Linked DNA regions of Homo sapiens: region 1 is linked to region 2. Evidence: fine-mapped expression QTL. Tissue or cell type: tibial artery. Region 2 holds a variant in brackets; the other region holds the start of a gene. All regions are shown on one strand. Distances are from middle to middle.

The links. PIP is the estimated chance that this variant, and not a neighbour inherited with it, causes the effect.
Region 1: RAD9A starts here. The variant in region 2 is fine-mapped to the expression of RAD9A in tibial artery (GTEx, PIP 0.97).

What each region holds. Positions count from the first base shown.
Region 1 is chr11:67,388,836-67,393,952 of GRCh38, forward strand. RAD9A (RAD9 checkpoint clamp component A) reads left to right here and starts at 3,151. Exons shown (of 11, transcript NM_004584.3): 1 at 3,151-3,243; 2 at 3,326-3,396; 3 at 3,819-3,947; 4 at 4,661-4,775; 5 at 4,856-4,955. The coding sequence starts at 3,210. It overlaps LOC100130987 (a long non-coding RNA gene), which reads left to right. Exons shown (of 4, transcript NR_024469.1): 4 at 2,563-2,852. RefSeq lists enhancers at 2,318-3,233, 3,268-3,772 and a silencer at 2,998-3,367.
Region 2 is chr11:67,309,123-67,314,309 of GRCh38, forward strand. It overlaps SSH3 (slingshot protein phosphatase 3), which reads left to right. Exons shown (of 14, transcript NM_017857.4): 11 at 275-421; 12 at 646-846; 13 at 944-1,217; 14 at 2,469-3,470. The coding sequence ends at 2,765. Among named protein-coding and RNA genes, the nearest start is that of SSH3, 8.2 kb to the left of the region's middle. The variant G/A (reference allele first, on the strand shown) is at 2,584.

The DNA of each region.
Region 1 (5,117 bases), 80 kb after region 2:
AAGCCAAGGCCGGGTGCAGTGGCTCACGCCTGTAATCCCAGCACTTTGGAAGGCTGAGACGGGCAGATCAGTTGAGGTCAGGAGTTTGAGACCAGCCTGGCCAACATGGCAAAACCCCATCTCTAATAAAAATACAAGAATTAGCCGGGCGTGGTGGCACACACCTGTATTCCCAGGTACTTGGGAGGCTGAGGCACAAGAATTGCTTGAACCCCAGAGGCGGAGGTTACAGTGAGCCGAGATCGCGCCACTGCCCTCCAGCCTGGGCGACAGAGCAAGACTCTGTCTTCAGAAAAAACAAAAAACCAAAAACCAGACATGGTTCCTGCCCTTGTGAGGCAGACACACTAGTGAGGAAGACAGATGTTAAACAGGCAAACACACGCATGAAATAACGTGATAAGTGCTGTGGCTAAAACAGGGTCTAGCTAGAGTGTAATGGGATGCTGGTGGGGGCAGAAAAGACGGCACTGAGCCTGGAGGAAGAGAAGCACCGCCACGTTAGAAGGGGTAAGACGATGCCAAGTGGTGGGGACAGCTAAGGATGTGCTAAAATCCCCAGGTGGAAAAGGAAGTGGAGGGTTCAGGGAGCCCACAGGGTTGGCATGGCTGTGCAGGTGATCAAGGGGAGGCCACAGGTGGAGAAATGGGTGGCGGCGGCTCCTGCAGGTTCAGGGCAGAGTTTGGATTTTATGGCAACCACTGGAGTGTGCAAACACGGGAGAGGCATGACACAATGGACATTTTAGGAGGGTCACTTTGCTGCTGTATGGAGAGTGGCCTGGAGGGGGCAGGGTGGAGGCAGGAGACCACTGAGAGCTGTTACAGTCATCCAGGTGAGAGGATGGTGGCCTAGGCCTTGGAGATGGAAGAGGAGGGCAAAGTTGCCACCTGTTAAGTTGCCACCTGTTTGGGAAGCAGAGTGGTCAGGACTTAACTGAAAGACTGTGTAGGGGTGAGGGCGAGCATGAGGTCAAGGATGACTCCAGCATACTGAGCCGGATGCCCAGGGACAGGGGCACTATTTCCATGGATCCCCCGGGAAGGGGAAGGGAAGAGTAACCTCCTCCCCCAAGGCTCCACGGAAGGGGCAAGGGCTGGTGACGAGGGGAGCAGAAGGGAAGGAGAGGGAGAAACAAAGTGTATGCATGTATCCAAATGTGTACAATTATTATGTATCAATTCAACTCATTTGAAAGTGGGTCTGGAGAGCAAGGGTGGCAGAGATAAATATATCTTCTGCACTACCACAGGACCTGAGGGGCAAGGCACGGGCAGGCCCTGCAGGAATACAGGGATGCCCTGGGCCCTTCCAAGAACTACCAGAGCCTTGGTACTGTGGGGAGAGTAGGGGTCAGTGAGTTTCTCCAGGACTCCCTTACATTTTACACACGTGGACCCGGAAGCCCAGGGGAAGGGGAATACCTTCCAGCTGATGCATCCCCACCTGGCACACAGTCTGGTTTTTTTTTTTGAGATGGAGTCTCACTCTGTTGCCAGGCTAGAGTGCAGTGGCGCGATCTCGGCTCACTGCAACCTCCGCCTCCGGGTTCAAGCAATTCTCCTGCCTCAGCCTCCAGAGTAGCTGGGACTACAGGCGCGTGACAACATGCCCGGCTACTTTTTGTACTTTTAGTAGAGACGGGGTTTCACCATGTTGGCCAGAATGGTCTGGATCTCTTGACCTCGTGATCCGCCCGCCTCGGCCTCCCAAAGTGGTAGGATTACAGGCGTAAGCCACCGTACCCGGCCAGTCTGGGGTCTTTTAAAAATACAGACCCGGGGCTGGGCGCGGTGGCCCATGCCTGTAATCCCAGCACTTTGGGAGACCGAGGCGGGCGGATCACTTGAGGTCAGGAGTTCGAGACCAGCCTGGCCAACATGGTGAAACCCGTCTCTACTAAAAGTACAAAAATTAGCCAGGCGTTGTGGCAGGCGCCTGTAATCCCAGCTACTTGGGAGGCTGAAGCAGGAGAATCGCTTGAACCTGGGAGGCGTGATCGTGCCACTGTACTCCAGCCTGGGCGACAGAGCGAGGCTCTATCTCAAAACAAACAAACAAAAAAACCCCACACACACACACAAAAAACAAAAAACAGGCCGGTGCAGTAGCTCACTCCACTTTGAGAGGCCAAGGCGGAAAGACAGCTTGAACCCCACAGTTGAGACCGGCCTGGGCAACATGGCAAGACTCCGTCTCTACCCAAAAAAAAAAAAAAAAAAAAAGGGCCGGGCGTGGTGGGTGTGCCTGTGGTCCCAGATACTCAGGAGACTGAGATGGGAGGATCCCTTGAGCCCAGGAGTTCCAGGCGGCAGTGAGCCGTGTTCGCGCCACTGCACTCCAGCCTGGGTGACAGAGCAAGAATATGTCTCAAAAAACAAACAAACAAAAAAAGGCACATAACCACGATCTACCCTCGTAAAACGTTTCCAGAGCGTCCCAGCGGTGCCCCTCATCATCTGGCGGCCCCTACGCCTCTCTGAGACTCACAGACCTACTCCCCTCTCCAGGGGGCGGAGCCCACACCGCTGAGCATTTACTCTTGTTCTTCCCTCTGCCAGGGGCACCGTTCTACCCCTTTCTGCCTGGAGAAACTGCCGTTTTTCCTTAAAGGATCCTCGAAGCCGGAAGGAGCAGCCACCTCCCACTCCCGGCTGCTGCAAGCAAGCTGCTTTGACTTCTTTCTAGAGTTGGGGATTGCTGCTGGAGTCCGAGTCTCAGGCCCAGAGTGGGTGCGATGGTCTTGCTTGCACCCTGTATCCCCCGGCAGACGCCCGGGAACTCTACTAAGTGGGTGACCCCAGAGAGCTCGCCCCCACACTCCGACTCCGAGTCCAGCACTCGGTCCACTGCACAGGGACCTCGCGCCCCACAGCTGCGTCCTCTCTGACCTTCGCAATCCGGTGCGCGGCCCGCGGAACGCCCCGATCTCCAGGGGCACGGAAGGCCGAGGCGTGCCGGGGGAGCCAGGAGCAGCTGGCTGGCGGGCGCCGCGGGCCTCCCCGGTCACGTGACACCCCGGACAACGTGCGCCGTCACGTGACGGCAGAGCCTGTGAGCGTTTTTCTCACGTGACGGAGGCGCCTGCACGTGGACCAATGGGGAGGCGGGGGCGGGGCCGGCAGGGGCGGTGCGCGGGAAGGGACCCCGGACCCGGAGGTCGCGGAGAGCTGGGCAGTGTTGGCCGCTGGCGGAGCGCTGGGGCAGCATGAAGTGCCTGGTCACGGGCGGCAACGTGAAGGGTGAGTGCAGGTCGGCCTGGCAGCGGCGGTGCAGCAGCCGCGGAGCCGCCAGCCTAACCCCCTTCCGCTCTTCTCCCCGCAGTGCTCGGCAAGGCCGTCCACTCCCTGTCCCGCATCGGGGACGAGCTCTACCTGGAACCCTTGGAGGACGGGGTGAGGGGCTAGGGTGTGGGGGGCGGGTGGGACTCCAGCCGGGAGCGGGTAACCCGGACTAGAGTCTCGCCCCCACTAGGCGGGATGACCGCTGGCAGATTTGTCGGCAAAGTTTCAGTTTCTTAGTCTGGCGGCTGTCATCTTCCCAGGCCGGTGTGTGAATTGAGGAAAGCTGTCCTGCGAGCTCCCAGGGGGTGACGTGCACTTAGAGAAACTCGGGGAAGGCCTGGGTGTGCGACCCCTCCTCTGCGGCAGCAGCGCCGGGGCCGACTCTGAAGGCTTCCATGGGGAAAGGAGGGTTTTTCAGCAGGTGGTGGCGGAGCGGGAGGACGATAGGGCAAGTGTGTGAGCAGAAGCAGCCAGAGGGCTGGGTCTGTGGCTGCCCCCTGACCACGTCCCTCTCCCTGCTCTTCGTGGCCCAGCTCTCCCTCCGGACGGTGAACTCCTCCCGCTCTGCCTATGCCTGCTTTCTCTTTGCCCCGCTCTTCTTCCAGCAATACCAGGCAGCCACCCCTGGTCAGGACCTGCTGCGCTGTAAGATCCTGATGAAGGTGAGGCCCTTCCCTCAGCAGTGGCACTACTCCACCCCAGGAATCTCCACCAGCTGTGCCTCTGCCCTGGGGTACTCAGTAGATGCTAAGTGGGGAGAGAGACACGTGCAAGCCCAATCCATGCAAAACACAGGGAGGGCCATGGTAAAAGCATCACAGCGGGGACCTGAGAGGGTGGTGACGCTCAAGTTCGTCAAGAAAGGTAAGCACGTCTTTTGGCCGGGCGCGGTGGCTCACGCCTGTAATCCCAGCACTTTGGGAGGCCGAGGCAGGCGGATCACGAGGTCAGGAGTTCGAGACCAGCCTGGCCAACATGGCGAAACCCCGTCTCTACTAAAAATACAAAAATTAGCTGGGCGTGGTGGCACGCGCCTGTAATCCCAGCTACTCGGGAGGCTGAGGCAGGAGAATTGCTTGAATCCGGGAGGTGGAGGTTGCAGTGAGCTGAGATCGCACCACTGCACTCCAGCCTGGGTGACAGAGCGAGACTCCATCTCAAAAAAAAAAAAAAAAAAGGTAAGCAGGTCTTTCAAGGCATTCCAAGCATAAGGAAGAGCATGAATGAGGCCTAGAAGGATGCCAGTGCCCGAGGTGACGTGGGAGCCCTTTTCCCAGAGTTACATGCTGGGCCCATGATGGGTGTGGGCCTGCATGGGACAGGAGAGCTTGTTGCAGAGATGTGATGCTAGGCTGAGGTGTCTTATCCCATGCAGTCTTTCCTGTCTGTCTTCCGCTCACTGGCGATGCTGGAGAAGACGGTGGAAAAATGCTGCATCTCCCTGAATGGCCGGAGCAGCCGCCTGGTGGTCCAGCTGCATTGCAAGTTCGGTGAGTGGGCAGCCGGCCAGCCAAGGGGTGCCTCAGCAGGGAGGTCGGCGAGGCCCACTGAGACCCTATCGCCCATCCAGGGGTGCGGAAGACTCACAACCTGTCCTTCCAGGACTGTGAGTCCCTGCAGGCCGTCTTCGACCCAGCCTCGTGCCCCCACATGCTCCGCGCCCCAGCACGGTGAGCACACCCCTGCCCTCAGCTCAGCCCCGGGTCTCTCTCTTCCTTCTTTGGGGCCCCAAGGGGTTGATTTTAGAAGGTACCTCTTTCATTTTCCCTACAGAGTTTCTGTGAACCTCAAAGACATCCCATGGCCCGCTATGTGCTCAGGTCCTTACCTGG
Region 2 (5,187 bases):
TTCTCTAACTCATTTCTGAGAATAACTGAAGGGCTGGAGTTGCAGTTGGCCCAGCTGTCTGGACCAGATGGGGAAACAAGCCCAGCAGGGCAAGATGATTGGTCTAAGGTCGCAGCCAGGTGACAGCTGGGTCACTTCTCCTCCCACTGTCACTGCTGCCTCCATCTGACTTGAAACTCAGAGCTAAAGCGAGGCCCAGGGGCTGCCAGGTCCGATTGCCAGTGGGCCTGGTACCTCTGCCCACATCAGCCTGGCCTTGGGCCCTCTGGGACAGGGTCACCCACATCTTGAACATGGCCCGGGAGATTGACAACTTCTACCCTGAGCGCTTCACCTACCACAATGTGCGCCTCTGGGATGAGGAGTCGGCCCAGCTGCTGCCGCACTGGAAGGAGACGCACCGCTTCATTGAGGCTGCAAGGTCGGTCTCCTGGCTTTGCTGCCTGCCCCACTGTGGCTTCAAGCGGCCTCCGGTGCCCTCCTCCTGCCCACTCTGCCATCAGCTGTGCCATTCCTTCCAGCCCTCAGTGTCCTTCCCTCCTTCTCTACTCTCAGTTGGTTGTGAGCCCTTCACCTGCCCTCCCCTGCAGGAGGCGGGATCCTTCATGGTGAGGGGAGGGTGCTGAACCTGGCCTGCTTCCACAGAGCACAGGGCACCCACGTGCTGGTCCACTGCAAGATGGGCGTCAGCCGCTCAGCGGCCACAGTGCTGGCCTATGCCATGAAGCAGTACGAATGCAGCCTGGAGCAGGCCCTGCGCCACGTGCAGGAGCTCCGGCCCATCGCCCGCCCCAACCCTGGCTTCCTGCGCCAGCTGCAGATCTACCAGGGCATCCTGACGGCCAGGTATGGGATGGGAGCGAGTGGCAGGGGGTGAGTAGGTGGGTTTGCTGGGGGTGGCTGCTGGGTCACTCAGAGCTGACTCAGGGCCACCTCCTCACAGCCGCCAGAGCCATGTCTGGGAGCAGAAAGTGGGTGGGGTCTCCCCAGAGGAGCACCCAGCCCCTGAAGTCTCTACACCATTCCCACCTCTTCCGCCAGAACCTGAGGGTGGTGGGGAGGAGAAGGTTGTAGGCATGGAAGAGAGCCAGGCAGCCCCGAAAGAAGAGCCTGGGCCACGGCCACGTATAAACCTCCGAGGGGTCATGAGGTCCATCAGTCTTCTGGAGCCCTCCTTGGAGCTGGAGAGCACCTCAGAGACCAGTGACATGCCAGAGGTGAGGCTGGGGCTGGGGGAGCTCAGCTTGCAGGGGTGGGGGCCATAAGGAGGGAGATGGGGAAAGACCAGGATGGGCGTTTGACTGTAGACCTGAGCAGGGCGTACCCGGGCTAAGTCTGGCCCGCCCATGCAGGGTGTCCTGGGAGGACCCAGGGGGCCTGGTCCCAGCCTCCTTCACAGTCAGCCCAGTATCTCTTAGCACCCGGCGTCTCCAGCCTGTCCCATGAATACCCCTGAAGATGGGGACCAGCCACGTCCTGGGCCCCTGAGAGCAGCTGAGATCCAGTGAGGGCAGGCGGAGGCACTGTAGGCACAGGCTGGAGAGGGGTCACGGGGGCAGGGCAGGAAGCAGTGCCTGTTTCCAAGGCTCCTGGGTGAGCCAGCCCCAGCCTCGATCGCGGGCAGGTTCCAGCCTGACCACAGGACTAGCTGTCTCAGGGGCAGGGCTGCCTCCCCAGGCCATGAGCTCCACAGGCCCCTGCAGGCCCTGGGGGCGATCTCTAACCCCATGGTGGGGAGGCTAAATTAATCTCTGAAGCCCCTCCCTGGTCTGAGGAGCAGCACCTCAAAGGATGGGGTGGGGAGGAGTCTGCGCACTCACGCCGCCCAAGTCCTGCCTAAGTCAGCACCCTTGATGCTCAGTGCTGCGGGCACAAGCCTAAGCCTGGGAGCCAGGCCCTGTCTGGGACTCAAGGCCAAATGGCTGACTTGGAGGAAGGAGCATCCACTGAGGGCAGGAACATTTGGGAGAGGCTTCCTGGAGGAGGTGTGGGTGGGGAAGGATAGGGAGGCGTGGTGGGTTGATGGGCGGGTGTGGGCGTTGCTAAAGGCAAGAGGTCCTCACCCAGCACCGGACGCACGCATCCACCCAGCCCAGCTCAGGGGCTGGTGCCGGCACGGGTTTCACCTGCCGGCTGCCTACGCAAAGGCAGAGAAAGCATAGGAGGGGAGGAGGGCAGGGAGGCCTGGGTCTCCAGGGAGCTGAGGAGGGCTTCTGGGGGCCAGAAGGAAGCTACAAGCAGGTAGGGTTCAAGGAGCGGGGCAGCAGGGCTGGGGTGTTGTCCTCCCTCCCGAGGAAGCGTGGCTGTGGACAGCTTGGCTTTTGGCGTGCGTGCCACAAACATTCCGGCCCTCGCCTCCTCCTGGCTCTGTGCTTGGCACCCCTGCCCCAGATCTTCCCGGCTCTGTGCTTGGGCACCCCTGCCCCAGAAAGGCCTCCCATGGCTTCCGTATCCTCACACCTGTCCAGGTCTTCTCTTCCCACGAGTCTTCACATGAAGAGCCTCTGCAGCCCTTCCCACAGCTTGCAAGGACCAAGGGAGGCCAGCAGGTGGACAGGGGGCCTCAGCCTGCCCTGAAGTCCC[G/A]CCAGTCAGTGGTTACCCTCCAGGGCAGTGCCGTGGTGGCCAACCGGACCCAGGCCTTCCAGGAGCAGGAGCAGGGGCAGGGGCAGGGGCAGGGAGAGCCCTGCATTTCCTCTACGCCCAGGTTCCGGAAGGTGGTGAGACAGGCCAGCGTGCATGACAGTGGAGAGGAGGGCGAGGCCTGAGCCCTCACACATGCCCACGCTCCCCTGACACTGAAGAGGATCCACAACTCCTTGGAGAAACACCCTCACGTCTGTTGCCGCACACATTCCTCTCAGCTCCGCCCCATACCCGTCACTACAGCCTCACCTCCCACCCCTGTCACTACGGCCTCACCTCCCACCCCTGTCACTACAGCCTCACCTCCTACAGCCTTAAGTCCCAGGCCCATGTCTGCCTGTCCAAGGGCTCAAGACTTTCTAACTGGGATGTGGTAGAGGGACTGAAGGTACCTTTGGGGGCAACAGCACCCTAGTTTCATTCTCAACTCTAGCCCTGCACACTCACCTGTGGCACGGAATGAAAACAGAGCTTCCCGTGCAAAAAGGGTCACGCCTCCCACCCCCGCCCCCTCCCTGCACCTCCTGTCCTCTCCCAGTTCATTCCTGGAACCAGCCAGGCCAGGCAACCAGTGGCCCCCAAAGGCAGGCAGGATCCTCAGGCCCCAGCCGCGGGAGGCTGGAAGGGCTGGCAGATCGCTTCCCTCATCCACCTCCACCGGTCCAGGTCTTTGCTGCTGTCCCCAGACCTCCTGTGACACCACGCCAGATCACAGGGCACCAGGCCAGAGATAGTCTTCTTTTTGTCCTTTCTGGCCTCTGGCTAGTCAGTTTTTCATAGCCTTACAGTATCTGGCTTTGTACTGAGAAATAAAACACATTTTCATATTTGGTTATTTTCAATGTGACGATGAAGCCATCTGTGTTGCAGTCAGACCCTTCTCTGCTGGCTGGGGAAGGTGGCCGCCCCTTCCTCCCAGCAGTCTCCTCACAATTCCAAGGTGGCTCGTGACAGACCTATTTGGGGGAGTGCCGTGTTTGGGCGTGGCGTGGGAGGAAGATTGGGTAAGAGAAGAGAGGAAGTCAGTGCTATCTCCCCATCTCCTGGGGCAGGGCCTGGTAAATATGACCTGCTCACACCCACCCGCTCAGACAGGTCGGGCAAGGGAAGAAGTCGTCAGCGGGCAGCAGGCATGTGGCTCCACTGTGAGAGCTGGAAGGGGTTACTCATGAGGAAGTGCCTACCTGGACAGGACCAAGCCTGTTCCAAAAGCGAAGCCTCCTTGGGACACTCGGCGCCAGGTTCTCTGGCATGTTTTGGGTCCCAAGAATCACCTTCCTCCTGCTACAAAGCAAAGGGCCTGACTTTCCAAGCCAGGCTATTGCGGCCTGGGAAGAAGGACCCTTGGTGACACTTCCCCTCCTGCCCAGGGGTTCCTTCTGCTCAACTTTAGTGTCCAAGAAGAGTTAGTCATTCCATCTTTTTTTTTCTTTTTTTGAGACAGAGTCTGGTTCTGTTGCCCAGGCTGGAGTGCAGCGGCACGATCATGCCTCAGTGCAGCCTTGAATTCCCAGGCTGAAGAGACCCTCTCACTTCAGCCTCCTGAGTAGCTGGGACCACAGGCACACCTAGCTAAGTGGTTGTATCTTTGTCACTTCCTTTTTTTTTTTGAGACAGGGTCTTGCTCTGTCACCCAGAATAGAGTGCAGTGATATGATCTTGGCTTTCTACAGCCTCAACCTCCCGGGCTCAAGGGATCCTCCTGCCTCAGCCCCTGAGTAGTTGGGACTACCTACATGTGCCATCATGCCTAGCTAATTTTTATCTTTTATTTTTTGTGGAGACGGGGTTTTACCATGTTGCCCAGGCTGGTCTCGAACTCCTGGGCTCAAGCGATCTGCATATCTCGACCTCTCAAAGTGTTGGGATTACAGGCGTGAGCCACTGCGCCTGGCCCATCTTTGTCACTTCTATCCCTCTTCCCAAGATTATGTATGCTCTCTGCTCTATGATACATTACCCTGGTTTGGGGAAGGGGCCGGATTCAACTCCTTCCCTCAAAGCAGTCCTTAGAGATGGGAGCTGGCACCAAGCATTCTCAGTGACTGAGACTTCACGCCCAGTTTTAAGAATGAATCTCTCACCCAGGCCCTGGTGGGACTCCTAGCACTGCTCTAACCCTGAAGTGCGCAGTGGCAGGAGACTTGGATTTAGCCCCAGCTTCACCACTTATGAATTACTTTGCTTTGAGTCTCTGTTTCTTTCTGTAAAATAAAGGGATTAGACCTGGAAATCCCCAAGTACCCCTCTTCACTTTGATGCATTTTATATTATTTATTATTTATTTATTATTGAGTACAGTGGGGTGATCTCAGCTCACTGCAACCTCTGCCTCCCAGGCTCAAGACATCCTGCCTCAGCCTCCTGAGTAGCTGGGACTACAGGGCCACCACGCCTGGCTACACTTTGATACATTTTAACAATACATGCTATCTAGACATTGCTAGATTAGCCTCTACCTCCCTTCCAGAAGAGGAATCCTTGGCACCTATCTGGGTGGTATGCCTAAGGGTCACAAGATGTGGGGTACATGCAAGCTAGTTC